Regions from separate parts of the Homo sapiens genome. Here all the other regions are linked to region 1. The links come from fine-mapping of genetic effects on gene expression. A gene starts in region 1. Each other region holds a variant in brackets. All regions are shown on one strand. Distances are between the middles of the regions.

Evidence for each region. PIP is the estimated chance that this variant, and not a neighbour inherited with it, causes the effect.
Region 2: its variant is fine-mapped to the expression of MCPH1-AS1 in whole blood (TOPMed, PIP 0.97).
Region 3: its variant is fine-mapped to the expression of MCPH1-AS1 in substantia nigra (GTEx, PIP above 0.99).
Region 4: its variant is fine-mapped to the expression of MCPH1-AS1 in whole blood (INTERVAL, PIP above 0.99). The same link has a PIP of 0.9 or more in prefrontal cortex.
Region 5: its variant is fine-mapped to the expression of MCPH1-AS1 in fibroblasts (GTEx, PIP above 0.99).

Annotation. Positions count from the first base shown.
Region 1 is chr8:6,705,043-6,711,751 of GRCh38, forward strand. MCPH1-AS1 (MCPH1 antisense RNA 1) reads right to left here and starts at 3,167. Exons shown (of 5, transcript NR_125386.1): 1 at 3,099-3,167. AGPAT5 (1-acylglycerol-3-phosphate O-acyltransferase 5) reads left to right here and starts at 3,600. Exons shown (of 8, transcript NM_018361.5): 1 at 3,600-3,845. The coding sequence starts at 3,627. RefSeq lists silencers at 3,354-3,693, 3,754-3,993.
Region 2 is chr8:6,677,715-6,683,565 of GRCh38, forward strand. All of the region lies in intron 1 of MCPH1-AS1 (MCPH1 antisense RNA 1), which reads right to left. Among named protein-coding and RNA genes, the nearest start is that of MCPH1-AS1, 28 kb to the right of the region's middle. The variant T/TTCTG (reference allele first, on the strand shown) is at 2,415.
Region 3 is chr8:5,714,844-5,721,552 of GRCh38, forward strand. No RefSeq gene overlaps it. Among named protein-coding and RNA genes, the nearest start is that of MCPH1-DT, 690 kb to the right of the region's middle. The variant G/A (reference allele first, on the strand shown) is at 3,853.
Region 4 is chr8:6,667,361-6,673,160 of GRCh38, forward strand. All of the region lies in intron 1 of MCPH1-AS1 (MCPH1 antisense RNA 1), which reads right to left. Among named protein-coding and RNA genes, the nearest start is that of MCPH1-AS1, 38 kb to the right of the region's middle. The variant A/G (reference allele first, on the strand shown) is at 2,902.
Region 5 is chr8:6,656,736-6,663,444 of GRCh38, forward strand. The region is part of intron 1 of MCPH1-AS1 (MCPH1 antisense RNA 1); the gene reads right to left. Among named protein-coding and RNA genes, the nearest start is that of MIR8055, 38 kb to the left of the region's middle. The variant T/C (reference allele first, on the strand shown) is at 3,487.

The sequences.
Region 1 (6,709 bases):
TTCCTTACCCCAATTATTTCTGTAAAAACAATCTTCAAATGGAGGCATGCGTATCCCTGAGAATATGGACACGTGGTCATGAGGAGTTTCAAGGGATTCAGTTTTCAGATCCCAACTCTTCTAAAAGTGATCTGTCTGAGGACTCCTGCAGTCCAGGCCCACCTGGCATTTCATAATGGCTCCTCTCCCCCCTGGCACATCCTAAATCTTACTACATTGTGCTGCCCTGCTGAGGTAGAAAGGTGTAATAAACCTTAGGACACCAACAGAGATAACTTATTTAAGAGATGCATTTCTTGTAACTTTTTTTTTTTTTTGCCTACAATTCCTTATCAGATTTTGTGAAACACATTGATTAAACTGTGTATTGCTAATAATAGTAACAGTTCAATCCAGAAGAAAATTTGCTTCTTAGGACCCTAATGATACAGTCTGATCAGTAAAAAACTTTGAAGGATAGAGCATATTCAATTATGATAGAATCCTGTGGTAGAAGTGAAATAAAAATATTTTCAGGGAGAAAAATAATCAATGCAAAATTTTCAACTGGTCAAAGGCTTAAGTATTTTTGAAATGAATGATGGGGTGGATATTAAGTCACTATAATATTTATAACTCACTGCATACATTTAAAAATTTTCTGTAATCACTTTATTTTCAAAACATCATTCATAACTCATCAGAACTTCATAACTACTTAAATTTATAATTAAAAGCCTTTTTAAATTTATCATTAAAAGCCCCCCTCTCCCCACCTTTTTTTTTCTTTGAGATGGACTCTTTCTCTTTTGCCCAGGCTGGATTGCAGTGACGCGATCATGGCTCATAGCAGCTTTGAACTCCTGGGCTCAAGCAATCCTCCCAACTCAGCCTCCTGAGTAGCTGGGGCTACAGGCATGCACAATCACACCCAGCTAATTAAAAAAATATATTTGTAGAGATGGAGGCCTCACTCTACAAAGCGCTTAAGTGATCCTTCCTCCTTGGCCTCCTGAAGTGCTGGAATTACAGGTATAGGCCACCATGCCCAGCTGAGAAAAACATTTAAATATCAGTTTAAGAATGTGTGATGGGAATACACAGCATTCTTTCAAGGGGCATCTCAACAAATTTTAAAAAGAACACTGTGGCCCACTCCAGTGCTATGCATGAGAATATGGTGATTTCTCAGCTTCAGGCGTTCAAATGTGCCATTCTCCCATGGAAAGCCCACTAAGTCCCTCAAGCTTCACCTGAAATACCATTTCACTGAGAAGTCTTCCTTGTCTCCAGACTAAATTAGATTGCCTTGATATATGCTCCCAGAGAACCAAGAATGTCCCCTTTTCATCCCACAGGTAACTCCTTGTTAAATGTTGTACAAGGAAGGCATAGACAGAATTCACCTTTCACTGTTCCACTGGTGCCCAGCAGGGTATGCAAAGGAGGAAATCAGCTGTGCTCTGAAAGAAGCACCATTCCAGTAAAGGGGAGGAAAAGGTCATCAGACTGCAAGGGCTCAACAAAAGTACAAGGTAAGGAGGCAGAGGGTGTGGGCTGATTATCAACTAAGAGGTTTGCACGGAAAAAGGGAAAAAAAAAAAAACAGAAAAACAGGGCCGGGTAGTGGCAGAAAGAGAGGGTGGATCTGTGACTGTTCGCAGGAAGAGAGGAGCGGGAGCAGGACAGACAATAACTGATAGTCAGGAGCTGGGTTTGGAGATAAAGAGGGAACAAGAGAAAGTTAAGTTCTGTGTTTTCATGGCAAACATTGCACAAAAGTTTACAACTTCGTGACTAACAGTAATCTGGGGTGATTCACAACAAATTTACACATAAACACATATTTACTGACTTTATACACAGCAATCCTAACGTGAACACAGAACCTGCTTTATCTTTTCGCACACTGTTCTAGTGTAGAGATGTCTGGTCTCAGTTAAAGAAAGCATAAGGAGCATTAGTTGTGCACACTGTCCACACCTGTGACTTTTTTCCACCAGTACTAAACCTAGTGCTTCTTACAGTACAGGACAATGACAGCCACAGAAAGAGAGAAGCTCCTTTTACTGTGTAATGCTTCCTGCTGGCCTTCAAATACTTGTTACTTGAGAGATCTCCATTCACCTGGCTTTGTCCCCAAAGGTCATCATCTACCAATGATGTTGTTATTTGATGTTAATCATGTATAAAGAAAGTAGCTACCATCCTGGCCCTGATTAGAACTTCCCACTGAAATACCGTCCTGCCTAAAGGTAGCACAGGCTCCCATTATGGTGGTGGTGGGGAGGGGGCGGGAATATATATATATATATATATATATATATATATATATATATGGTAAAGCATTCGGCATTCTTTTAAAGTACAACTATCCTTGAAAAGGGTTACATATTAAACCATTTTTACCACAGCCAAAGGGGAGGAGAAAGATCCAAAAGTCCTGTGGATCTGCTTTAACATCAATAAAACAGTTATCCACCCTTCGTAGCTTTTAGTGAAGGCTACAAAAGTATGCTTTTTATGGATTACACATGTGCACGCAACTACTTTAATTACTACAGAAAAAAACGAGGCTCCTTATTAAAAAAAAATCAGAAACAAGTCCAACAGACTCTGAGGAAATGAAGCAAGAGTGAATTCTGAAAAGGTCTAATAAACAGTATGGAAATATCCTTGTGGGATTGTTCTTCAGCTATGCATAAACATGTAATTATCATCATTACTGTGATGGGGAAAAACACGGACCCTAATTCTGAAACACCCTGGTAGCGAGAGACGGGCAGGAGGGGCTGCTGCGCACTCAGAGCGGAGGCTGAGGAGGCGGCGTCCCCTTGCAAAGGACTGGCAGTGAGCAGATGGGGACACTCGAGCTGCCCCGCGACCTGGGCCGAGCTGCCTACAACCTGGGCCCAGGTGCCTGCAAGAATTAGACCTCCGATAACGTTAACACCCACTTTCTCACTGCTCTAATTGTGTGCATCCCGGCGCCCAGGGGCTTGTGAGCAGCAGGTGCGCGTTCCAGGCAGCTCCAGCGACCCTTAAACCTGACCGCGCGCACGTCCGGCCCGAGGGAGCAGAACAAGAGGCACCCGGACCCTCCTCCGGCCAGCACCCACCTTCACCCAGTTCCGTCAGTCGCCACCACCTCCCTTCCCGCGTCCGCAGCCGGCCCAGCTGGGGAGCATGCGCAGTGGCCGGAGCCGGGTTGCCCGCGCCCCAGCAGGTAGCTGTACTGCAACTGTCGGCCCAAACCAACCAATCAAGAGACGTGTTATTGCCGCCGAGGTGGAACTATGGCAACGGGCGACCAATCAGAAGGCGCGTTGTTGCCGCGGAGCCCCCTGCCCCGGCAGGGGGATGTGGCGATGGGTGAGGGTCATGGGGTGTGAGCATCCCTGAGCCATCGATCCGGGAGGGCCGCGGGTTCCCTTGCTTTGCCGCCGGGAGCGGCGCACGCAGCCCCGCACTCGCCTACCCGGCCCCGGGCGGCGGCGCGGCCCATGCGGCTGGGGGCGGAGGCTGGGAGCGGGTGGCGGGCGCGGCGGCCCGGGCCCGGGCGGTGATTGGCCGCCTGCTGGCCGCGACTGAGGCCCGGGAGGCGGGCGGGGAGCGCAGGCGGAGCTCGCTGCCGCCGAGCTGAGAAGATGCTGCTGTCCCTGGTGCTCCACACGTACTCCATGCGCTACCTGCTGCCCAGCGTCGTGCTCCTGGGCACGGCGCCCACCTACGTGTTGGCCTGGGGGGTCTGGCGGCTGCTCTCCGCCTTCCTGCCCGCCCGCTTCTACCAAGCGCTGGACGACCGGCTCTACTGCGTCTACCAGAGCATGGTGCTCTTCTTCTTCGAGAATTACACCGGGGTCCAGGTGAGCCGCCTCCCGCTCCCGGGTCTCGGCGTCCACCCGAGCTCCCGGGGGCGCGGACCTCTCCGCTCCCCCACAGCTGGCGAGGGTCACCCGGCCGGCCCGGCGGACCCAGCACGGAGAGCACGTGCCGCCTCCCCGCCTTCCTCTCCGCATGCTTCCTGCCGTTCTGCCGAGATCGCTCTCTAGGAAGCTGTGGCTGCGTCGTCCTGAGGCTACGAGTGGGACCCGCCGCCCCTTTCCCCGCCCCTCGCCTGGGTCTGATGCTGCTTAGCAAAGTGGGTGCAGATGCACGTTTTAAATAATAGGGCACGCGTTTAGCAGTTTCTGGCCTTTGGTCCAAAGAGGTGGTCATGTTGGAACAGATCGGAGACGTCTACACTCCGAAGTGCGCTTTTACAGTGACCTCTTGAAACAGAAGTACAATTCGGTCTTGTGTTCTTTCCCCTGGACAAGTGAAAGCTGGGCGAAGAAATGAATACATTTGTTAACCGTAGAAGCCTAACTAGATACATTTCTTGCCAACTTTAACTGGGCTTGAATGTGTGGGTGATCTGTTGTCTGATTACTTTCTTTCTGTTACTGTTTCTCTGTAGAGATTGGATTCGTAGATTAAACTTGAGAAACAAACCATAAAAGTGGAAGGCCCTCTTTAACAGTAGGTATTTGAAGTGTTATAAAAAAAAAAAAAAGGTGAATTTTTCTTTTATTTCTCAGTTTGAAAGAACAGCTTTATTCTTGGTTATTCCTAATGTCCACCTAGTCCTCTTTTACTTTTCTTGGTAGGGTTAGGGTGGCATGGGGAAATGGGACGGTATCATTTTGTCTTTTTAACTTTTTTTTTTTCCACCTACAGCAGCTGTTTTTACCCTGTGGTCAGTCAGGTACTATATTTAGTTTGCAGTTGCACTGCTGATCGACCCTTGATGGCCCCAGTTGGAAGTTGTTTGGGGGGAAGGAACTAGGAGAGGCCAGGGCCTCCATTTAAACCAGTGTCTGTAAGTGTCTCCTTGGAAAGAAAAAAAGATACTGTTCCAGGTCATGGTTTCCTGGTAGTTGACGTTTAAAATGGGCCTCATTTAAAAATTTCAATAATTCAGGCTAATTTTTTCCCTTTATATGGTAACTCCACCAAGTTTGTCTAAATGTATGATTTTTATCATGATTAAGTTTTTACTTCCACATCATGTGACAACTGGCCTGGGATGGGATATAAGCTCAGAACACAAAGTCATTCACCTCTTAAAAAAATAATTCTATCTGTGGCGGGTTATGTTATTTTTGTTCAAAGAGGACACAATATGATGCAGAATACACCATTGAAGGATTTTTTGGTTTGGCAAGTTCTTATTTTTTTAAATGGCTGTAAAACCTAGCAGTGTTTCTGAAATTGCATACCTTACCTGATGTTCAGAGATCCGATTTACTTCTTGATTTCCCAGCAAGTGATTTTGAAAACATTTAATCTAATCATTCCCCCCACCGTCTGTTCAAATCAAAGGAAGTGGCATCCAGCACTAATTTTCATGCATTTATGAAAGGATGCCTGAGGACCCTTAAGTATAATTCAAAATTTTGTTTAATGTGTGTTCCTTGATGAAGTTCTTTAGGAGTCGTAGAACGAACTGATTGCCCACTGATCATCAAATGCAAGTTATGAACATTTAATAAAAATTTAAAACCAAGAGTTTCTTGTTCCTGCATTTTTATTTTTATTGTATGGAGGGGACAAATAATTATTTTCTGTTTAGTAACAGAGCAGGGTATTTTGAATTTATTAGGGTCTTTTTCTGCAATCTGGGTTTCCTGTGTACACAAAGCTACCTTTCAATATTTTTTATTGTTTCTGTTAAGATTAAATCAATAGAGGAATAAATAGCTATCTTCAAACATAAGACCCAAAGGAAAAAGATTTATAGTGATGTTCTGTCACCTTATTTTTTACCTGTGACTTTGTACCATTAACTTTGTCACTGAGATGTTTTGATTAAAATTTTTAGCTTGCTTTTCTTGTTTTGTTAGGACACTCTTTTTTTCTTGAATTGTTTTTATCAGCTTTCGTTTGCAAGGCTAGTGATGATTCTCTTGTTCTGTATAAAGTATTGTTGACTCATTTCTGAAGGGAGTTTTAGTAATTTAAGAGGTTATAAGTTTTTAAATAAAAGGTTTATTAATTTATATATATTAAAGAGGCATTTTAAAATAAAATTTTTTTTAAATGACATTTTTACACCTTTCAACTCTAGGTTTAAAAAATAAGTGGTTCACAGTAGTTCTTGCAGAAGAATATTTTCTTTTACATAGAATTTTTAAGCTGAAGAGAAGTAGTAGTAGGTCCATGAGATTTATGATCTGTGCTTGGCAGGTAAACCTGCTTCCAACAAATTTAGTTGGATTTTTCTTGGATTCTGGGTAAATACCTTTTTCTTCCCCAATTTCACTACTTTATTTTCATATGTATCTCTGAGATAGAGAAATATTTCAGTCAGTGCTGCTAAAATTGTTCCTTATAACTCGTTTATCCTTTTAGGTCCTTCCAGAATCTCTCATTGGTACTGAAACTCAAATGGGTACTTTCTTCACCATTTATTTCTTTAGAATAAGTAATAAGAATTTTATAAGCTTTTTTATATTTCACGTAATTTGAGACTATTGAAAATCCAGTTAAGTCTCTCTACTGTGTTGAGAGGCATTGATTCAAGTACCTGTGTTACTTTCCTGTGCTGCCAAAACAGATCACCTCAAACTAAGCGGCTTAAAATAATAGAACTTAAGTTCTCGTGATTCTGGAGGCCAGCACTTTGAAATCAAGGTGTAGGCTCAATTTTACTCCCTCTGGAGGCCCTAGGGGGAATCCGTTCTTGTGG
Region 2 (5,851 bases), 28 kb before region 1:
GGAGATGGAGACTAGTGAAGCCAAGGACAGAAGATCACTGGCTGAATCACTTGTTTTCTTGTCATGACTCCAATTCAGTGGATTTCAATCCTGGCTGCAGATCAGAGTCACCTGGGCAGGTTTTGTTTTTCCCCAAAATACTGTGCCTGGGCTCACAGTCCCAGAAATTCAGTAGGACCCTCCCCATCCCCCATCCATGTGTACTTTTAGAAGAGGCATCATTCTGGTGCCTTTTACACCTGACACATGAAACACTAGTGACCATAAACATGCTTTCATTTAGGCAACGTGTGAATACCCAGAGTATACAGGAAGGAGCGGGGAATGCGGCCTGGATGGCATGGGGTGGACTCTAGGAAGCAATGACACCTTTCAGAGACAACCCTCACTACTCGAGGGTTTCCTGGGTGTTTCTGAAGCTGCAACTGGGATCAGGCCTTAGTTCATGTGCCTCAAGTACAATGTAGTCCTTCCCCCACCTCTCTCCCCATCTAAAAAATATCACCAAATCTACTCAGAGACACAAGTCCACCTGTAGGAGAAGAGGTGGAGGCACATATTCCCAATCCTGGGCTAACAAGGCCTAGGGGTCACTGTAGTGGGTCGGGAGCTGTGAATGTTGCAGGGAGGATTTAACCGGAATAACAAGGGGTGTTGTGTCCCTAGGGCTCTGTCCCTCTTTCCCCATCCAAAGTTCTGTCATGGAAATGATGAATGAAGGCATGGGACCTTTGCTGTCAAGCCGTCTTAGCTGGGGACAGTGACTCCCAGGGCCACCATCAGTGAGCATGCCTGGGACCCAGGGGAAGGGAAGCTGCTCTAGGACCTCGGCTCTGAGGACACACAGATCCTGCTCCCAGTGGTCCCAAGCCTCCAGTTGTGATCCCTATCTGTTGACAATCTGGACTCAGCCCCACTGTTACAAAGAACCATCCCCTGGGCAGGCACGGTGATTCATGCCTATAATCCCAGTGCTGTGGGAGGCCAAGGTGGATGGATCTTTTCAGGCCCGGAGTTCAAGACAAGCCTGGGCAACATAATGAGACCCTATCTTGAAAAAGAGAGAGAGAGAGAAAGTGAAAGAGAACAAAGGAAGGAAGGGACGGAGGGAGGAAGAAAGACAGAAAGAAAGACAGATAGGAGGGAGGGAGAGAGGGAAGGAAGGAAGGAAGGAGGGAGGGAGGGAGGGAGAGAGGGAAGGAAGGAAGGAAGGAGGGAGGGAGGGAGGAAGGAAGGAAGGAAGGAAGGAAGGAAGGAAGGAAGGAAAGAAGGTTGGTTTAAAAAGAAAAAGAAAACACAACCATCCTCTCCAACCAGCCCCACTGAAGTGGATCCTGCCCATCCAAACAGGATGAGGCAAAGTCCAGCAGACTTGAGCCGATAAGGTTCAAGGACAAGGCACAGGACGTAGAGTCATATTCCACAACATCCTCTCCAAAGCCTCTGGGCTAAAAGTTTTACATCTTGATATCATCCAACGATGTAAAACACCACTTCAACTTCCATGAAGGCCAAGTTGACTCTGTGAGCTGCTATTTCTGCAAATTTCTCAAGTGGTTTCCTCGGGCCCTTTAAGGGAGCCAACAGCTTCTGCATGAGACCAGTCATCTCTTCATTAACCAGTTTAGATTCCCTTAAAGCCACTCTTAGGTTTTCTTTTGGGTTGTGTGCTTGTAGATATCATCTAGAGGTTTGGGAAACTGGTTCTAAGTGGGACCATATAGTCCTCAGAGTTCGGTCCAGTCGAGAGAAGGGGCATAAGGGGAGGGAGTGAAGCCATTTAGAGTTAGAGAGGCCTTAGAGAGTACTTGGCCCAGTCTTTCATTTCAGAACAGAGGAAACAGAGACTTAAAGAGGTTAAGTGTTTGTTCAGAATCACTTCAAATGTTGATAGCAAAAACAGGGCGAGGACTTCAGGAGCCTAACTGTCCACCCCAAGTTCCTTCTGGTTAATGCGGCACATGTGGTTTCCAAGGAAATCAGTCAACTCTTCAGCAGGAGGAGGCGAGGCTGCAGAGCAGAGGTTACTTACGGTGGTGCAGGCAGACACACCATCGTGGCCACAGGAAACGAGTGCTTCAAATGGGGCTGCTACAGGAACAAATAGCAAGGACACTGGCGTCAGAGGTGGCGTAGGACAGCATGTCACAAAGTGACAAATGGATGGCCCACGCAGCCCGCGTTTTGGGAGCTGAGAAGAAGCAATCACTGGGCTTAGGTGGATGGAAGTTATCAGGTAAGTTTCGTCCTCCAGTTTGCAGGCATGAATGTGTCATGCTCACTTAGAGGTTTACGCTGCATTTTTACGTGATACTACCCAGGCAGCAGAATGGAATTTAATAAAAAATGAGAATCGTAGTTGAAAAGGCTTCAGAGTATTTTGCATTTACAATTGCATTTCAGAAGTCTGATTT[T/TTCTG]TCTAACCTGATTGACACAAAAGCATATTGAGTTCTGTGAGTTCTATTTACAGATTTGCATTAATGATGATTAATAATGTCTGCTATTTAAGTCAGATTTTGTGTAAGGAGTATGCAAAGAATGAGCTGTTGAGGCAGCAACCTGATTTTGTTGTTTTTTTCACCACTGCATTTATCCATTCTTTAATTTTTTTTTTAATTATTTGAGACAAGGTCTCACTCTGTTGCACAGGCTGGAGTGCAGTGACACGATCACAATTCACTGCAGTCTCAACCTCCCAGGCTTGAGCAATCCGCCTGCCTCAGCCTCCAGAGTAGCTGGAACTACAGGCATGCACCACTATACCCACCTAATTTTTTTTTATTTTCTTTTAGAGATGAGGTCTCATTATGTTGTCCAGGATGACATTTATCCATTCTTAATCATCTCTTCATTTTTATACAAAGCCAAAGTTCACATTATTACTGGGGCAAAATTTCCCCCCAGTTTTCCCCCTAGTTAGCAATCAGTCCTTCCCTTCCTTCCTTCCTTCCCTCCCGTCCCTCCCTTCCTTCCTTCTTTCCCCCCAGTTAGAAGTCCTTCCTTTCTTCCCTTCCCTCCCTCCCTCCCGTCCCTCCCTTCCCTCCTTCTTTCCCCCCAGTTAGAAGTCCTTCCTTCCTACCCTTCCCTCCCTCCCTTCCTTCCCTCCCTCCCTTCCTTCCTTCTTTCCCCCCAGTTAGAAGTCCTTCCTTCCTTCCTTCCTCTCCCTCCTTCTCTCTTTCTTCCTTTCTTTCACTCCTCTCCCCTCCCCTCCCCTTTCCTGTCCTTTTTTCTTTTTTTCTCTTTCCTTTTCTTTCTGAGATGGAGTCTTGCTGTGTCGCCTAGGCTGGAGTGCAGTGGCGTGATCTCAGCTCACTGCAACCCCCGCCTCCCAGGTTCCAACGATTCTCCTGCCTCAGCCTCTGGAGTACCTGGGATTGCAGGCACGTGCCACCATGCCCAGCTTATTTTTGTATTATTAGTAGAGACGGGGTTTCACCATGTTGGCCAGGCTGGTCTTGAACTCCTGACCTCAGGTGATCCACCTGCCTCAGCCTCCCAAAGTGCTGGGATTACAGGCGTGAGTCACCGCGCCCAGCAGAAGAATTTCATTTTAACATGCAAACACCTCAACAAAGCCAACTGAGCCTACTTCTAAAAAGCCTCCAGACATATCCCTTCCTCTCCAGTCTTGCTGGCCACTGACCTCTCCCAAATTCTCATATGCACTTAACATTCATTTTACAGCAACAACCTCCTAACTGGTCTTTTTGCCTCCAGAAAAAAAAAAAAAAAACATATTCAGCAACTAAAACAATTAAATTCCTAAAGGCCAATAGATTATATATTCTACACTGCATAGGTGTAAATTCTGTGCCATATATTCAAGGCCAGAGCAGAGTTTGAGGTTATAGCCTGGCAGAAATTTCAGAAATGGGTATTCCCCCAAGGAAGGTTTAAATTCTGCGTTTGAAGTCCAGTAATTTTACCTGGCCTTCTTTTTATTCAGATGACCAACCAGCACTGGAGATTTACTAGCCCGTGTGCAAATTTTTGTCAATCCCACTTGTCATTAGAAATCCCACATGCTACAGAGAGAATGCGATTTGCAGATAACTCGAAAACATAAGAAACCCAAACACAAATCACTTAATCGGAGAAAACATTACTCTCTTAAATTTAAACAGTTTTTTTTAAAAGCCAGATGTACTTATTGTCATTTCCAGAATTACTCTTATAAGTATCTGGTTATCATAACCACAGAAAGACAGTTTATTAGTTTTAACTGCTGGATAAAAGCATGTAGCATTTTCAAGATTTCTGGTTTCACCCTTTTAACCCAAAGAGTAACTATAAATAGATGGCAAAGTCTGGGATTTCCACAGCTAAGTGCTGCTATAAATAGTTTTAAACATTTTCCCACTTCATGCTTTCAAAAAGAACATTCTCCACTTCCTTTCTTGGATAACCTCTGGGAATAAAGTGAATCACATTCAGAATTTTATTAAGGGAGTTTAACAAAACTATTTTAATGAACCTTTTAGCAACTCTAAACATATCTCAGACGCTGAAAAAACTGAGAATAAAATGATTTAACAAATGTGTTAATTTAAATAGATATTTAAATTGAAATAGATATTTTTGACAAATGCATTTAGAAATACATTTCTAACCACCGAAGTGGTGACTAAACGAAAGAAACATATTTCTTTCAACATTCCTTCCATGATAACATCTAGAAAAAGGGGTGTGAATTCATGCCTGTTGTCAGGTATCCAGGCTGACTTCTTTCTCAGGGAATATTCATAAGACAGAGACACAAAGAGATACAAAGATCCTCAGTTCTTTGTGAAATCCCTGCCATGGATCGCTTTCCCAAGGGACATGCCTGTGGCCGTCAAAGCAAAGCGAGCACTGTGCAGGACCGTCCCATCTCTCCACAGCAGAAAGATTCCTAATGCCTGCCTTCTAGCAACCTCTGCTGGTAGTTATTTCTGACTGGGAAGAAAGTAGAATTAGCCAGTCTTCCCCATGGCAGGAAAATTAAGCAAAGAAAAAACAGCCACGAAAACAGGTCATATCAGTGAAACACATGTTTCTGTTTTATATTTTAATGAAAAGGGACAATGGAAGGATTATAAATGATTTTTAAAATATTCGTGTTTTCTAAAAAAAAATAGCTATTTTTGAGCAGTTTTAGGTTTAAATATTGCACAAAAGGTATAGAGCGTTCTCATATATCCTGTCACCCTCAATTTTCCCTATTTTTAATATCTTGCAATAGTGTAGTACATTTGTTACAATTGATGAGCTAATATTATTATTATTAATGAAACTCCACAGTTTACATTAGGGCTCACTCTTATGTTGTACATCCTATGGGTTTTGACAAATGTATAATGATAGGTATCCGCCATTATAATATCAACAGGAATGATAGTTTCACTGCCCTAGAAATTCCCTGTGCTCCATCCATGCACCATCTTCACCACAACCCCTGGCAACCACTGATCCTTTTACTGTCTCCATAGTATTCCAGAATGTCACATATCTGGAATTCTACAGTAGCAGCCTTTTTAGATTGTCTTCCTTTATTCAGTAAAATGCATTTAAGTGTTTATCCATGTCTATACATAGCTTGATAGCTCATTGATTTTTAGCACTGAATAATGCCCATTGTCTGGATGCACCGGAGTTTCTTTACCTGTCACCTCTACTCAAGGATATCTTGGTTGTTTCCAAGTTTTGGCAATTATGAATAAGGCTACTATAAAGATCTGTGTGCAGGTTTTTAGGTTGACATGAGTTTTCAGCCCTTTGGGGTAAATGCCAAGGAGTATTATTTCTGGATCGTATGGTGAGAGTAGGTTTAGTTTTGTAAGAAACTGCCAAGCTGTCTTCCAAAGCGTCTGTGCCA
Region 3 (6,709 bases), 990 kb before region 1:
TCTATTATGCCATCTATTAGAATTGCATTCAGGGGGCCTGTAAGTGGTGAGAATACCAGCTTTTATACATAACATTCCATTTGTGGGTGTGTGAGTGAAATGTGGGCAGTTCAACTTTGAAAGAGAACTATTTCCCTTTTAAAAGTTTAGACTCCATTAAACAATATGGAAACAAAATGACCAATATTTTCTAAAATGATCATTGTTATTTTTAAAACATTCTGTTTATTTCTAAATTTCAAAACTAAAAAACATGAGTGGGGGTAATATGGACTGCAGGATGATAGTTCAACAACCTGTTTTTACGATAGACTATTTAATTGTGCAAGACATGCTAATTCCTTGCTTCATAACAAAAGAATCTCATGGTAATAAATTTAATATGCTATTGAAATAAAACCAGATGTTAAAAAGCAAAACAAAATAGTTTTTACATGTACTGATAAGGGTCTGATTAAAGCCAATGTAAATAAGGTATTTTACTGTTAACAAATAATAAGATGCATTTTATTCTGACATTCACTCTGTCAGACCACAGTTTCACCTCGTCACAGGCTGATTCTGTTACCTGTTTGCATTTCTGCTGATGTGGTAAATCCAAGCTACTGAGTACCCATTATGATTGGGAAAGGTGTTGATGACTTACAGAGTTCCCTGTACTACGTATAATGGAGTCCTTTACAAATTATACCTTGCCTGAACCGAATTAGATAGGTAAAATTCTCTAAAAAGACCTTCTACACAATAAGACCACATTGTTACATGTCACAGGAATGAAATGTTCTGTTTCAAATAAAAGTGCTGGCCACAGCAAGCAGGTGCCAGGATGTGCTGCCCACAGTGGCATCATCCCAGAGGGGCAATATACCTCTGCAGAATGAGGCATCCCAGAGAGGCAATATACCCTGCAGAATGTGTTCAGGACAACTTGGACACACTACACCTGTGAAAGCAAGGGAAGGAGGGCAGGCTCTGCAAGACGGAGAAAAATATTCCCAGGATGCACCACTAGGATTAAAATCCAATGCAACTCAAAGTATCCCCATGATTCAGTTCAAGTTTCCTGAAAGTAGGTGGTTTAGAATTTGTATTATCTCAAGGAAACCTTAAAAGAGCATCATATCTAAAAAGATAAAATGAATTATCAGGTTAATAAAGTGCTTAAAACAATGCTTCCGAAACACCCTGACTACGTGGCCTATGCCCAAAACACAGAGGCCATGAGTCCCTTTTCATGTTAAAGAGAGAGAGTTGCACTCCTCACTGTGAAAGGTGTGGACGAAGATGCAGGAGAGATGTGTCATCATAAGGATGTGGTGAAAATGCCTTGGAAAGTACTCTCTGCTGCTTTTCATCAGTACACGAGGCATGCGTCATCTTAGAATGTCCTAAATGCATAGTGTTATTTTTTTTAAGTCAATATTTCTGAGTGCTTATTTTGTGCTAGGAGTTGTAGTTAGTATTTTACAGGTAAAATCTCAATCCAGATAAGAATTTTGCAGAGTACGTACTATAATTCAGTTTTCACAGATGAGAAGAAATGAGTCCCAGAATAGTTAACAAGTAACTGGACAAATGTAAACAGCTTGTAAATGGAGGAGCTAGGAATGTACAAAAGTGGCGTGCATCATCAAGCCATGAGTTCACTATTAGATCCCGAAGGCGGGACCATCTCATGCCATCAGGAACCGGATATTGCCCTTTCGTATCTTAGAAGGCTTGCTAACAAGATGGTTCAGCTTTCATGAATTCTGCATCCGAGATTGCTGTATCATTGGGAAAAAGCAGACTTGGCATTTCTGTAAAGAGAAGGTTGATTTGAAGAGGATGATCAGTAATCCCTGGGAGCTCACACATTTTCCTGTATGGACAAATGCTGGATTGGCTTGTTTTATTTGGTGGCCTGGTAACCTATGGTAATAGGAATAGGTCAAAGCATTAAGTATTTACTAGGGCCGGAATAGTACAGCAGACTTACCTCAGAAGCAATATACTGCATGGTTGAAATACTTAATAAATATTTAAACGCTGGGTTCTACGAAACATATATGATATATTAATAAACATATGTAATGTTTAGTTTTAGAATCTAAATTTCTTACCACTTGCATACCACCACAGTTTTTTAATAAATTTCCTTCTCTGTTATCTGAGAAAATTAGGACCTGCAAGGGCAGGATCACAAGGGGCCAGTTTTTACTTCAGTACATTTCAGAGGTGAATGCACACACACCCACCCCACATACACATTTTCAGAAAAACAAATCTAACAAAACTAGATGTCTAATGAAAAAGATACTGTAAAAATTAGTTATATTCACCAAACAGTGAGTCTGATGCCTAAGAAGAAATGCATGTGTTAGAGTTTTTAGGTGCAGAAACCATGACCCACCCTAGCTAGATTAAGCAGAAGAGGAGTATATTAAAGGATATTAGAAATCTGCGGGAGGGTGAGAGAATCAGGCTTGGAGGCCACACAGACAGGAGCAAAAGCAATGGAGAGGTAGTGCGGTACCCCTGACCATGTGCCTCTGCTGCTCAACAGTAATGGCAGCATTCAACTTCAAGCTCTGAAATCTGTTGCTGGCAGCTCTGCCGCTATTGTTTTGAAAAGCTGCGATCCCTCACTAATTTGCTCGCTCACCAGAGGAGATCCTGTGTGGCATCTCCTGTCTCATGCTACTCTATTCCAAGTAAAAATCTCACGTGGGAGCAGTTACATTCGGCGCCACCTCACATCACTGTGTCTGAGCTCCAAATGAGTTTCTCACTTCCTCTTTGGCAAAGCAGGATGTATAAAGTGGGATATTTCCCAGAGAAATCCTACCGGAGTCCTGCCACTATAACACATCACTTTAGAAAGGCAATATATGCATGATGCCTTCCAAAAGGTGCTCCAAGGCCAGTCCTCATGGTCAGTCGGCCAACACCTTTAAGCAGCTATTTTTCAAAGATGTTTTGTCGCCCATGAAATTAGAGCCATTGGGAATAGGGAGGAATACTTCTCTTACTTTCCACAATTAGTGACACAGAATTGATATCTCTACCTTCAACACCCAAATTAATAGCTTCATAAAATAGCATATTATTTTTTTCTGTTTAAAATAGAAGTATCTAGGCTTCTGTAAATGGCTGTGAAATGAAATGGTTATGCAAAAATTCTGCACGGGTAAAATAATTTAAAAATGGTTTTTAAGGAGTTCCTGTTTAGAAACATGAGAAGTGACCCAAAGCAGAGGAAGTTGCATATAGATACAGATATATAGATATAGATACATGAATGAATGAATGAGGAGAAAGTCTCTGGAATATAAAAGGACCACGCTGGCTGAGAGAAGTGAAGGAGGACTGAGACACAAATGCTCAATGTAAGCACTGCTCCAGTAATCACTGAGAGCTGGAATATTATGCTTATAAACTGGAGACCTCACAGGCTTTGAAACCCCTATAGGAAATAGGAACAAAATCTTGAAAGATCTACAGTCCATAATATTGATACATTTTCTGCTTTTTAAATAAACTCTACTTCCAATTCATGCACACCTTGTGCAGCAGGCTTGAAGAGTTAGAGGACAGACTCTAAGGCTCTTGGAGACACAGAGGTGAACTTCCTCTGCCCACGTTCTTAATTAACTGCCAAATTATATAAGGCTGAAATTTTTCAGAGTGCCTTGCTATATTCATTTTCATATTGTTATGAAGAAATCCCCAAGACTGGTAATATATAAGGAAAAAGAGGCTTAATGGACTCACAAATCCACATGGCTAGGGAGGCCTCACAGTCATGGCAAGGTGAAGGAGGAGCAAAGGCATGTCTTACATGGCAGCAGGCAAGAAAACTTGTGCTGTGGA[G/A]CAGCCTGTATAAAACCATCAGATCTCAGGAGACTTGTTTATTATCACAAGAACAGCATGGGAAAAACCTGCCCCCATGATTCAGTTGATTCAATTACCTCCCACTGTGTCCCTCCCATGACACGTGGACACGTGGAGATTATGGGTGCTAAAATTCAAAATGAAATTTTGGTGGGGGCACAGCCAAAACATATCACTTGCTGAAAAAAATCAAAAAGAACTGTGGAACTGCACATAAAGAGGAAAACTACTAGCAGCTGTGTATGGTAGGGAAGAAAACATTGCAGTATCATTCCAGACAGGTAAACAACCCACTAGAATAACAATAACAAAAATGTCAGAAGAAAACATCAGATTATTATTGACAGAGTAATGTATTATTGACGATGTGCACTGCTTGATTTCAACCACAAGTTACTAGATATTCAGGATGGAAAATGTGGCCCACATTTAGGAAAAGAAATCCATCAATGGAAACTGAGAAGGTTGTCATGTAGGACTAAGCAAATGAAAACTTCAACAATTATATACATCCACATATATATATGTTTTATGAATTAAAAAAAGCTCTAAAATGGTAGTATTAATAAGCACAAGGTTCAACAGACAAATGGAGATGAAAACTATAATAACTGAAATAGAAATTCAATAGATGAGACCAGTAGTAATTAGAGATGAGAGGACATAATTACTGAAGTTGAAAGTACATTAATAGAAATTACTCAACACAAAAAGAAAAACAAGAGAACACATGTGTGGGTTTGTGTGTGCTGCAGTTGTTTCATATCTCAGAAGCTCATGGATGCATGGGATAATACTAAAAATCTCACATACATACTTGAAATTCCAGAAGGAGATAAGATTAAGTGGAAATTATCAAAAGAGAATCTTGAAGGAGTAATAGCTAAAAACTTTCTGAAGAGTATTGAAAATACTTATTTAAAACTCAAGAAATTCAAAATAATCTAACCAACAAATATACACAAAAATTATTCCGAGTTGTATCAAATTCACACACAAAATCTCCAAAGCATTCAGAGAAAAATCAAGTGTTGTGTACAAGGAAACAGTGGTAAGCATGGTGGTTGAGATTTCACCAGAAGTTAGAAAGTCAATGACACATTAAAGTGCTGATATGAAAAGACAAAAACACCTCTCAGAAAGTTTCTACCCAGTGAAATTATATCTCTAATTGAATCCCTTTTTATATGGAGGAAAACTCATACATTTTTTTCTTAAGCCCATCTGCAATATAGTAAGGACTAGAGAAAAATTTCTAAGCTGAAGAGAGATGCTTTCCGAAGGAAATAGAAAGAACATTGGAAATGTTAAAAAATTACTCATTAGATAACTCTCTCTTTCTTCTCTTTCTTTGTATATGTATATACATTTATGTAGAATCACACATAAATATGCTACATATTATATAGTATATATAATATATATACTTACAGTAAATATATACACACAGGTACCCGTGTATATATCCCATATATGTATATATAAAATACGTATACACATTATTTTACCTTAATTTCTTTGAAAATCGCATTAATGTTTAAAACAAAAAAGGATAACACTGTAATAATGGCATTATAAATAATACACATATGCTATATATGACAATAGTGTTAAGATGGGAGAAAATAAAAATATACCATTGCAAATTGTCTATAGTTTACCTGCTGTAATTCTATATCATTTCAAAGATATTGAGAGATATATAAATCTTGGTAACCTGTACAACCACAAAACAATGCAAATATATAATTTCAAAGATAAATAATTAAAGTGCAAATAAGGCAAGATGGGAGGAACATAAAAAAACAAGGTAAAAGGAATGTCTGACAGCAAAATGGAAAAGCCTACATAAAACTATATTGATCCTGATATTGAATAAAAAGTAGCTAAACACTGATCGAAAGTCAGGATTTTCAGACTAAATAAAAAAGCAGAGCCAGTCTTATGCAAAAGAGATAAACTTTACACACAAATAGATTGATAGTAAAACGAGAAGCAAATAAAGGCTATAGTTACCATATGACTATCTAACAATATAGGCATCAAGAAAAGGAGGGTTGTTAGAGGAAAAACAAGTAAAAGTCTCTAGTAATCAGCTAATACATCAAGAAGATCAGATAAGTAAAAATGTGCATGTGTGTAATAACATATATTTAAATTATTTATAAACCTGGGAAATTTAAAAGATCCAGGTAGTATGAATAAAATATATTTGGCGTGAATCTAAAAATTCAAGAAAGCTAATCTAGATAAATGATTCTGGTTTAACTGGAACAATTTGAAATGAATATAGAAACAAGATTCATCTACCCTTATACATATACCAAATATACGTATACCAAAATTAAGTCCAAGTCAATTATAGGGTGTATTAGTTGCCTGTGGTTACCGTAACAAATTACCACTAACTGAGTGGCTTAAAACAACATTAAGTTATTATCTGACATTTCAAGAGGCCAGGAGTCACAGATTTTGTCAGGAATTTTGCCTCCACCTGGAAGCCTTTTGGGAAACCATCTCATGTCTCTCATGGCTTCCAGTAGCCGCCAGCAATCCCAGAGCTCCTTCGCTTGTAGATGAACCACTCCAATTTCAGCCTCCAACGTCCCATTGACTTTTCCATATCTCCATGTACCCTTTTCTATCTCTTATGAGGATGCTCTGATCAGACTTAGGACAAACCCTAATCCAATAGGATCCCACATTGATCTTTACCTAAATTATATCTGCAAACACTATTTCCAAAGAAGATTACAATCTGAAGTTCCAGGTGTACGTGAAATTTGGAAAACACTAAATATCACATTTAAGCCTGTGAAACTTGTAGAAAAAAGGA
Region 4 (5,800 bases), 38 kb before region 1:
TATTACAATATACAATATTAAAATAACATATAATAATTAACATACTCAAGGAAAGAATATATGAAACAAGAATTTTATATCTAATTAATAAAAGACAAACTTTTATCAACATGCCAGAACTCAGGGACTATTATTGCTGAGTCTTTCCTGAGAAATCTAGTCGACATCAAGCTTCAGACAATCAAAATGGAGAGAGAGATAAGTGACTTATGCAATGGTAGTAAGTAAATAGGTGGTACGCCTAGGCAACATAGGAAGATCTCATGGAAAGAAGGAAGAAGGGAGGAAGGGAGGGAGGAAGGGAGGGAGGGAGGGAGGGAGGGAAAGAGAGAGAGAAAGAAAGAAAAAAAGAAAGAGAAAGAAAGAAAAAGAAAGAAAGAAGAGAGAGAAGGAAGGAAAGGAAAGGAGAGGAGAGATAAACTCCCAAATTTTTAAATGGTCAAAGATAAAAAACATTTTATGAAAACATAATCTGCTAATTAGAGGCTGCAGTGTGCTATGATGGCACCACTGTGCTACAGCCTTGGCAACAGAGCAAGACCCTGTCTCTGAAAAAAATTTTAAAAAATAACACATTAGACACAGCTCAAAAGAGAATTTGTAAACTGGAAATTATATCCAAAGACATTGCTCAGGATGCGTAACAGAAAGACAAATTAAAAATACGCAAGAGAAGTTAAGAAAATGAAAAATAAAGTCCAACATATATTCATTTTAAGTTTCAGAATTAAATAGTAGAGTAACAGCAAGACAGCAGTATTTAAAGAATATTTAATAGACTAAGAAATAATGGCCAAGAATTTTTCAGAGTTCAGGAAGCAATATAATATATCAAGCAAGAGAAATAAATTAAATTCATACATGATGAAATACATAGATGAAATTCATAAATAGATTAAATTCATACATAGATAAAATAGTGAAAAAACAGATTATCTACAAAAGAATGTCAATAAGACTGACAGGAGTCTTTTTAATAACAATGGAACATGGAAGAAAGTGAAATACCTTCAATGTGCTAGAAAATAATTATAGATTTAAAAATCACAAATCCAGTGAAACTACCAAAAATGAGGTAGAATAAAGGCACTTTGAGATAAACAGAAATTGAGACTGTTTGCCACCAAACTTAAAGGCACATTTAAATGATGTACTTCAGGAAGAATGAGACGCTCCCAGAAAGAAAGTCTGAAATGCAATGACGTTTGGCAGCTAAACAAAATGGTAAACATATGACTAATCTAAATACATATTAAGCAGATACTGATAATTACACAATCTGTGAGGTTAAAAACAGAGATTGATTCAAAATATTGTATCCCAGTAGCACACAAGCTAGAAGCAGTGATCAACGGAGGAAAACCATTCTAAGACAAGGTCTCCAACCCCTGGGCCACCAACGGATATGTTAGGAACTGGGCTGCACAGCAAGAGTTAGGAGCCGTGGGCAGGCAAATGAGCGAAACTTCATCTGTATTTACAGCTACTCCCCACTGCTCACATTACCACCTGAGCTCCACCTCCCATCAGATCAGCGGTGGCATTAGATTCTCATAGGAGTGTGAACCCTATTGTGAACTGTGCATGCAAGGGATCTAGGTTGCATGCTCCTTATGAGAATCTAATGCCTGCTGATCTGTCACTGTCTCCCATCACCCCCAGATAGGACCATCCAGTTGCAGGAAAACAAGCTCAGGACACCCACTGATTCTATATGATGGTGAGTTGTATAATTATTTCATTATATATTACAATGTAATAATAATAGAAATGAAGTGCCCAATAAATGTAATGTGCTGGAATCATCCTGAAACCATCCCCCTGCACCCTGGTCCATGGAAAAACTGGTCCCTGGCGCCAAAAAGGCTGGGGACCACTGTCCTAAAATCTTTGTGTTATTCAGAAGGATGGTAAATAGTCCTTCACTGTAGACTGTTAAGTATATATAAACAATTTCCAAGATAATCATTAAAAGAAAAGAAGTATAATACACATCTCCCAAAGCTGTAAAGAAAAATAAATGGAATACAAAAGCAAATGAAAAATTGTAGCTGACACTGTCCTTTGAGCAAACAGAGGTTTAGAATTAGTCAACCAATAAGCCTCTTGAGATTTTCCATGAGAGCTTAGGATGGTATTTGACTGTTTAGAAGAGGCACGCGAGTGGCTGTCTTTTTGATAGACAAAGAGGACAATTAAACGGAAGGAACAGTTCCTTAGGCATTCCTAGTTGGAGCTGTAATTTATGAACATTTGATACATCCCCGATTATTCAAATATTTTGTATTAATTTTTAAATCTGCACCCAATTTAAAAGTTCCATGGGTAGCTTCAGCAGGGAAAATGGACTTTTGATGGTTACATCCTTCTCTCCACCACCCCATCTCCTGCCCCCGAATCCTCCACTGCCCCCCTCGCTGTCTGAATGATGCTTATGGGAGCACCTGACGGCCAGGCAGGGCAGTGCTCCTGTGTCCAGGACGGGGGCTGCTAGTGGAGACTGCTTAGACATTTTAACAGTGAGAAAAGATATTTTATGTTTGGAATTTAACAGAGATTTTGGTTGATAGCATGAGGGCTCCCTTTAGCCCTCCTGATCCTCTAATTCAACGAGAAAATTTCCCTCACCATTTCTCCCCAGTCACAGTTTCTTTGTATTTTTCCAAAATTTTAACTGAGTTATCGGTTGTCTTCTTCAGTTTTACATTGTAATTTTGGCAGATAATTTCTTTGGCAGATAATCCAGGAGATAATAACTCCTGGACCAGCGGATTTTACCAAGAGGTTCTCATTTCTTTGGTTCTAGAGAACAGCCGCAAAATGTCAAATCCTCTAGTCTTTCTGACCAGCTGGATGCCATAGTTGTTGACAGACTGCTGCCTAGAAGTAAAAGAATTCAAA[A/G]GAAATCACTCATTTCTGCATCTCAACAGTTACAAAACACCAACAGCCCCCAAATTACAGGGTGTTATATAAGTCAATGAACCAAGCATTTGGGATTCTACAGAAACACTGTCTCAGCGGGTACTGGCTTCCTGGCCTGACCATTATATAACTATTATCCATAGCATAATTGAGGTGCTGTATATTTGAAATAAATGATAAAAAAATGCTGTAGATTATCCGTTTTTCTTAGCCATTTTTTCCAATAAGACATAGCCCACAGGGCCCTGGATAATTAACCTAGGCCTCCTCCATTTTTTTGCCAGGCCATTTAGACTTTCTCCTAAACTGACTACTGGCCTGAGGGAGGGTGTGGAGATGGGAGGAGCTGGTCCCATTGGGTGGACACTGTGTCGAGTTGGGAGGAGGGTCTGTGGCCTCCCCACAAGAAAGGCACCTTCTCTCTGCAGCTCCACCCACACCCTTTAGAGGGAGCAAGAAAAGGAAGCAGTCAGGCAATAACTGAACCCCACTGGCCTGCAGGGCAGCCAGTCAGTGGGCAGACATAGGGGCCATAGTGGGCCAGGGCCCCCCATTCTTAGGGGCAGACATAGGGGCCATAGTTGGCTGGGCAGGGGGTCGGGGGTGGAGGGTGGTGCAGGGTGGAGGGAGAAAAGGCAATTCCCACAGGATGACCTGCAGATCCTCCAAGCATCTGAAGATTGGGAGGGACCGAACATTTCACCCAGGTCAATCATTCTTGCCTCCCCACCCAGAGTTCAAACTTCTGATAAAATATTCAGTTTTAGCTCAAATACTTCCAATGTCCTGGCTGCTCCCATTCGGGGGACCACTGGGATGGCAGAGCTTGAGAGGATTAAGACTTGGGGGATTAAGAAATGGAGCCAGGTTGCAGTGGCCCTAGGAAGAAAAGAGAGCAGAGGGAGTGGATGTGGGAGGAATCAGGGCTTCTGCAGTAGAAAAGGAAGTGGATTAGGAAAGTGTTCCAGAATATGGGTGTTCCCAATGCCCGAGGAACAATGGGTAGGTAGAGACACAGGCCTCAGGATCCCAGGTCGGCAGTGTGGCTGCCAGGATGCCCTCGTGTTTTCCAGCCTGGAATATGGGTAGCCCAAGGCCTCTTTCTAGTTTCCTCCACACCCCTGCAGAGGCACAGTGAGGTTCATGTGGCCAAGCGCTCCAAGAAGCAGTGCAGCTATGACTTTACAGGGGAGGTGATGCCAGCAAAGGCATGACACACTCCATGGGGGCAAAGGTTGCCAGGACAACCTCTGCAAGGACAACCTCTCCCACAGCCAGGGTCTGAAGGGGATAAAAGAAGCTCTCTGAGGGCTAAGAGTGATGTGCCTGGGAAAAGAAGTGTGGTGTATGCTAGGCCAGTGCCCCCGAACCCCCAGCACTGGGGCTACTGTGGTACATGGGAAGTCCACCCGCCAACTTGGCTGCAAGATGCCCAACCCTTTTCAGCTCCCCCAACCACTGAGCCACTGCCTCAGAAAGAGCTTCAGGTCTTTTGAGTGCACCCAGGCGAGTGGGGAAGACAAAGGGTAAATGAGTCCCTTCTTCCAATGAGACCCAGAAAAGTAGCAAGGGGTCTGTTAGTCCTAGAATGGCAGAGGTGGGATGGGATCTGAGGTCCTGCATCCTCAGCTCTCTATCAGTGTTTGTCAGAGATACAGGGACATCCCCTGTGCCTGCAACTCAATGAGGCACCATATAAATAATACAAAGGGCAGGGAGAGGTTGAAGATGCAAGAAAACACTTAAGTTCTTCTCTTTCTCTCCTCTCTTCATTGGAAGAAATATAAGATTTGGATCACAAAGACTGGAACAGACTTAAAGGGAGAAAGGACAGGACAGATTAAGTAGGGGTGAAATTTTAAGGCAATATGAGAATAAAAAAGAAACGTAAACATTCAGATAAGTAATAGGCAGCTCAGACAAGAGTGAAAAAGTGAAGAGGGGAAAATATTTGAAGAAGTAGTTCAGATCAGTTTCCCAGAATGAAAAGACTGACCTCAGATTTAAAGGACTCGTAGAGCACCACAAAAGAGAATAAGGAAAACCTCACCTACACGTACTAAACTGAAATGTAAGAGCATGAAAAAAACAGAGAAATTCTAAAAGCCCACAGAAAGAAAGAAAGAAAGAGGCTATATGAAAGAACAAGAATCAGCTTGATATCATCTTTGTTAACAGCAACAATGGATGCAAGATAACTGGAATCTTATTTTCGACATACTGATGGAAAAGAACTTAAAAATGTAGAATTTTATATCCAGCCAAACTATCATTCAAATAAGATGAGATGATGAATTTCCTCAGGCATACAAGTGCTTTCAAGATTTTGTAGAAAAGGTCACATTGAAAATAGTTTTGAAAAACTAACTAAAAAGTGAAGGAAATTCAAGAGATATTCCAAGAAATTCTTGAAGGAAAAATGACTTTATACCTTAGTAGAGTTGTTATCTTTACAAATTGATAAGACTAACAAGAAAAAATACATCCTTACAACTAAGAATTAAAAGTTAGTTAATGCCAATATTAATGGGTTGGCAGAAGATGGCAAGAACAAAAGATATGAGAGCATAGTAAAGTTCTTGTCTTATTAGAAGATATTTGTAGATATCAAACTGGTTTAAAAGAAGCTCAAACCTAAGACCTGTAATTAGAAAACTTCTAGAAGAAAACAGGGGAAACACTCCAGGATGTTGGTCTAGGCAAAGAGTTTATGGTTAAGACCTCAAAAGCATAAGCAACAAAATCAAAAATAGACAAATGGGACTATATTAAACTAAAAAGCTTAGGTACTTCAAAGAAAACAACAAAGTGAAGAGACAACCTGTCTCTGATCATTTGAATATTGGCCAAACTTCACCTGATGAGGGGCTAACACCCA
Region 5 (6,709 bases), 48 kb before region 1:
GGCAGCCGGGATGCCGAGTCCAGGTCCTGGGGTCCGGCCGCTGCCAGGTAGGGCAGAGCAGGCTCTTGGGGAGCAGAGGCTTGGGTTTTCATGTCGAACAGGATCAGCAGATGAGGAAGTGGACCTGTGAAAAGTCGCTGGCATTGCAGCTGAGATCCCCTAAAGAAAAGCAAACTCCTGGAAGGACACGCTGAGAGGAAGAGGACTAGGAAAAACTGCACAAGAGGCCAAAGAAGCCAGACCGGCCCAGAGCTCCAATCAGGGAGAGCAAAAAAGAGACTCAACAGGTTTAAGTTCATATACGGTCATACAGGCCATGTTTTCTGAACTAAGCATAATGTAGGAAATTAATTGTATGAAGAAATCCAAACACTAGGCTGGGCACAGTGGCTCACGTCTGTAATCCAAGCACTTTGGGAGGCCAAGGTGGGCAGATCACTTGAAGCCAAGAGTTCGAGACCAGCCTGGCCTCCATGGTAAAAGCCCATCTCTACTAAAAATACAAAAAAAAATAGCAGGCATGGTGGCGCACACCTGTAATCCGGCCACTTAGGAGGCTGAGACACGAGAATCAGCTTGAACCAGGAGGCGGAGGTTGCAGTGAGCCCAGATCGTACCATTGCACTCCAGCCTGGGTGACAGAGTGAGACTCTGTCTCAAAGAAGTCCAAAAACTGTATTTGTAGGTTGAAAACATAAATAATTGATACATCAAAAGAAATCATAATGGAAATGAAAAAATATTTAGAACTGAAATAAAACCTTCTGGGACATACCTAATGCAATAGTTAGAGGGGACTATGCAGCCTTAATTGCTTATATTAGTAGTAAAGGGGGAAGAAACCTAAAACTTTGTTAGCTAAATATTGAATGAAATAAACTGGGGAGGGCCAGGCGCGGTGGCTCATGCCTGTAATCCCAGCACTTTGGGAGGCCGAGGTGGGCGGACCACGAGGTGAGATCGAGACTATCCTGGCTAACACAGTGAAACTCCGTCTCTACTAAAAATACAAAAAATTAGCCAGGCGTGGTGGCACACGCCTGTGGTCCCAGCTACTTGGGAGGCTGAGGCAGGAGAATCGCTTGAACCTGGGAGGCAGAGGTTGCAGTGAGCCGAGATCTCACCACTGCACTCCAGCCTGGGCAACAGAGCAAGCACTGTCTCAAAAAAAAGAAATAAAGAAATTGGGGAAATAGCTACATAGTAAATCAAAGAAAGTGATAGGAAGAAAATAATAGCAGAAAGTAACAAAATCAATATAAAGAAAAAAGAATCAATTAATCCGAAGATGATTCTTTGAGAAGACTAATAAAATAGACAAATTTCCGAAAGTTTGACCAAGGGTTGGAAGAAAAGAAGGAACAAAACAATGTTAGGCATGAAAGGGAAACGTAACTACTCACTACACTTACATACGCCTTTAAGTTTTCAAATCTTGAAGAATTTTGAAAGCATATGACAATAATAAACAATGGAAAGTAAAAGAAAATCTAAAAGGATGTTACATTAGAGGTTATATTAGAAATAATTAGATATAATTCAGCAAAAACAGACTTAAATCAAAAATTGCAATGAAATAGCGTGAAGTCTGGGAGGGAATGCAAAATTTTGATGCCCTCTCCCCGTGGAATCTGAACACATCACCCTCCCAGGGCCAGGACATCAATCAGTGCGTTCATGAACTCCTCTAAAGAACTTCCACCAAGGCTGTGCTGCAGAGTTTTTTATTGATGTGTCATTATGTGGGCATGAGATTGATTAAATTTATTAAGTTGGTTGATTGACCTCAATCTCTGGTCCTCTCCTCCATCCCCATGGTCATGATCAACCGAAGTCCCAACTTTCTAACCAAGTGCTTGGTCCTTCTGGTGACCAGCCCCCATCCTGAAGCCACCTAGGGGCCACCGGGGGTCACCTCATTAGCATCACAAAGACACTCCTAGTGCTCAGGAAATTACAAGGGTTTCTGAAGCTCTGTGCCAGGAACTAGGGACCAAGAACATGTATCTATTAGCCTCATTTAACAGATGTCCATTTTTGTTACACCACACATGGCAAGCCTGGTAAGGAGAGCCTTCCCCAAGAAGGTATGTAAGCAACTAGGAACTGGGTGGGATGTTTAATCCTCTTTCATGGAAGAGGAAAAATAATTGGAAATAATAATACATGGCATGACGAGAAAAAACTTAAAATCCCATGTTGAGGCCGGGTGCAGTGGCTCACACCTATAATCCTAGCACTTTGGGAGGCTGGTGGTGGGCAGGTTGCCTGAGCTCAGGAGTTCAAGACCAGCCTGGGCAACATAGTGAAACCCCGTCTCTACTAAAAATACAAAAAATGTGCTGGGTGTGGTGGCGTGCACCTGTAGTCCCAGCTACTTGGGAGGCTGAGGCAGTAGAATGACTTGAACCTGGGAGGCAGAGTTTGCCTCCAAAAAAAAAAAAATCCTATGTTGAACATGTTATGTTTGAGAGGTCTGAGTGACATCCGAATTAAGATGTGAAGTAGAGTGGTGTGTGTGTGTGTGTGTGTGTGTGTAGTCCGGACACTGCATGAGGACAAATCAGTAGGTGTGTGTGTCTTTTACGTCTCAGGAATTGATAAGCTCACCTGGAAGGAGAAAGCAACAGAGCCCCAAGCTTTAGCCATAGGGAACTCCAAACATTAGATCTGGTAAATGTAGAGAAGCTGTGTCTGGCAAAAGAAATACTTCAGCTGAGTTAAATTTAAAGGACCTTCATTGGGTAATGAACGGCAAATCAGGCAGCCCCCAGAATCACAGCGAATTTAGAGAGACCCCAGCACAGCCGAAGAAGATTTATAGACCAAACAAAGGGAGGTAATGTACAGAAATCAGGGGTAATGTACAGAAACAACTGGGTTGGTTACAGCTCAGCATTTGCCTTATTTAAACACAGTTTGAACACTCAGCAGTGTATAAATGGTTGAAGTATGGCTGCTGGGATTAGCCGAGACTCAGCTATTGTTACAGGTGCATACTCCTAAGTTAGGTTCTCAATCTTGTCTACCTATTAAGTTAGATTGCAGTTCGTCCACAAGGACTCGAATATAAAAGTACTGGAGTCCTTCTCTGGCCATATTTAGTTTGCTTTAACACTACCCAAGATAGAGAGTTCAAAGTCACAAAATCTAAGAAGAAAACATATTTCAAGAAGTCACTGGTTAGTTAACTGTTGAAAGCTAGCTGAGAACAATAGATCTGAGTAGAACCTCTTTAGGGGATCACATTGCTGAGAAGTAAAGCTCTTTGTCAACCAAAAATCAAGATCCCAAACATCTCTCATCTCTGCTCCCTTCCCTCCAATGTGATTGTTCCTCCCCTTCTTTGCTTCTCTTTGTTCTTTAAATTTATTTTTCTATATTCAACTCAATTCTTTTTCCTTCTCTTCCACCTCCTATGTTCCCTTCCTTTCTGGAGGCCCAAATGATTTCATTAAAATCAAGGTGTCAGCAGAGATTCCTTAC[T/C]TTCTGGAGGCGCTGGGTGGGAATGCGTCTCTTGTCTCTTCTGGGATCTAAAGGTACCGCCTTCCTTGGCTCATGGCCCCTTCCTCCATCTTCAAAGCCAGCAACGGCAGGGGAGTCGTTCTCATCTTACTTCACTCTGACACTCACTCTTCTGCCCTCTCTTCCCCAATTAGGAACCCTTGTGATTACATTGATTACCTTGGGCTCCCCAAAATAACCCAGGTGGACTTGTTTTAAAGTCAGCTGATTAGTACCTTTTCCACCTACCACCTGAATCCCCCCGGCCATGGAAGGAAACATATTGACAGATTTTCAGATTAGAACATCTTTGAGGAGACCTTACTCTGCTGCCAACACTGGCCCCTGATTGCCTCACACTAAATCCAGGACGGATGCACTGACCATGGGTTCTCACTGGCACCCAGCCTGAAACCTCAGATAAGGCATTTGTCTTCTCAGAGCCAGGGTTTCTTCAACTGGCAATTTTCACAATAATCCCTGTCTGGTGCCTGAGAGCACAGGATGATGGCCAGGGAGTCGACGCCCTTCTGAAAGGGGGAAGAAGCAAAGGCATCTCGGTTTGCAGTATTCAGTGAGTTATGCTGACTCAAAGACACGAATCAGACACTGACTGGTAGGAACCCCCAGCACAGATTAAGAAGTGCATAGCCAACAGGCCTGACTCCAAACAATTCAAACAACAAGGAAAGAATAGAGAACTTATCATTATTGTGTCTGTTTGACAAATACTTAATTGACCATAATGTAAGGCTGGAATTTGCCTATTTTAAAGTTACCTGTGGTTGTAATTAAACTGTTTTGTTCAGTGTTCTCAATTCTAATTCTACTACTTTATTTAAAACTATAAATTTTTGTGTCAGGAAGACAATATCTACTTTTATCCCTCTAATATTTAACCCCTTAATGGAGACAGTAATTAGAATTATTGACCTGAAACTACACAAGATCATACAAACATTCTTCAGGCTAAACTATTATTTTGTTTGGTATGAGTTCCCAGTCTAAGCGTTAATATTTTCCCAAAGCCTCAGGACCTTGCAGGGACCAAACTCCACCTAGAACTCTAAGATACTGGCGGCAGCTGTCAATTTCATTAATCTGGTTTCAATTTTTTTAATATTTGGATTACAGCTTATCTATGGGAACTCATAGTTGTTCCATCTTTAATATTCCAGATAGACGATTTACTGAAAAAGCTAATTCAGTATTGTCTCCCGTGAGCCAGCCAATGAAACCTCAGCCAACGCTGAGGAGGGAGCACTCGAGGGGAGGAACGCCATCCTGGGCTCTCTAGGGCTGTTGTCTGTCAACAGCGAGATGAGAACAACGGGCAACAGCAGCAGCTCCGTCGGCCCACGGCCGCCCCAGGGGCCCTGGGAGGGCGGGAAGGGAGACACTGCCAGACCTCAGAGCTTGGCACCAAGAGCCAGTTATCAGCCAGATAATGTACTCAACCAATGGCGAGAAACCCGACCATGAACTTATTGGGAACTGGTCACAGAAAAGAGAAGGACTCTTTGTCCTGAGTGTGTGAGGCTGTGATGGTAGGAGCCGCAGGGCTGTGACTCACACGATGCCACAAGGTTCCTTCCAAAAACAACTGGGGATGCTGTGTGGGGAAAGGGCTGATGGCACAGTAGGAGGTAACGGGCTCAAAACTGACCTCCTTTTTAGGGGTGAGGAAAAGACTGTCACCTCATCTTGTGGCTTCAGAGCCCAGAAGAGATTGTGGAGCAGCGGTTAGAGACTTACGGAGGAATTCTGATATTTTTAACTCTTCGGCACTTTGCTTTTCTTGAGCAATTCCCACACCACCCCTTTTTAAAGATTTATTAGATTCAGGGGCTACTTTATAATATCCTTGGAGCCCAAATTAGACTTTAAGCACATAACATATCTGAGCTTGAGGAGTTTAACTTCTTCAACAAAGGAGCAAAGAGATTTGGTGAAATGACCCCCATGGTCCCTAATGCTGATGGACCCACCGAAGTTAGCCTGTCACCAGAAGCAAAGGGATACTATTTTTAAGATATGAGGATCTTTTCCACATTTCTGTTCAAAGCAGTAACTTTGCAGCTTCATCTATTGAAGGCCTCATCTCCACCTGCTTTTCCTACCCTGGATTCACAGGGCTTGTGGTGCCCTCTCCCTGCCTCCACTCACCTTCCAACAAGTGCTGGAGTTTGATTCACACCAAACAGAAATAGCCAAAATTTGTAAGAACTCTATTGGGCAGCTCTTCTGTATCAATGACTGTACAGGCTCCAAGGGCCAGAAATAATGAAGATACAGCACCTATCTCAGCGAGCTGACAGCCTTGAAGGGGGATGAGGCTGGAAAACAAATGACAACACAGTGTGATAAGTTCACTGCAGACCAGGGAGAGCGACAACTTTGAGAAAGGGTGATTGCTTTTAAACGGAAAGGAAAAGAGCTTGGGAAATACTTCCAGAAGAAACTGACATCTAACTTAGGTGAGTTTTCTTTTTTTTTAGGTGGGGTCTCACTGCGTTGCACAGGCTGCAGTGCAGTGGCTATTCAGAGGCATGGTCATAGCTCACTGCAGCCCTGAATTCCTGCACTCAAGCGATCCTCCTCCCTCAGCCTCCTGAGTGGCTGCAACTACAGGTGCATGCCACCATGCCTGACTCTCTAACATAGGTTTCAAAGGAAGCATAGGAGTTCCGAGTGGAAAAGAGACCAAGGGAGAGGCCCGTGCCAGTCCCGAAGGTGAGGGGAGGTCTGAGGGCCTCAGGATTGCTGGAACTTCCAGTGGAAGGGCACGTTGAGGGGACGCAAGTGAGATATAAGCGTTGGGTAGTTAAGAAAGGCTATTGAAATTTTCCAGACAAGAAATGTTAAGGCGCAGAACACAGTGCTCACAGAGAGGGAAAGGAGGAGGTGGATTAGAAATGAAATTTTGGAAATGAAATTATTTGCTGCCTGAGTGGCTACGCAGGAGGAGCAGGGGGACAGAGTCAATCTGGATGAGTCTTGGACTCAGGCATAAAGTGTCAGCAGTCTTGGGAGGATCCACATCCTCACGGGAACCAGCTCCTTCAGCTAAAGGGAAAAGGTGCTTGGTGCTTCAGCCGGCCCAGAGCGTGCCCTCCATGGACACAAAGAAGCCAAGTTCTTGTTGCTAAAGGTGTTCAACAGAGAAATGTTGGAGGGCCAATTAAAGGCAAAGCCCACCACTTTA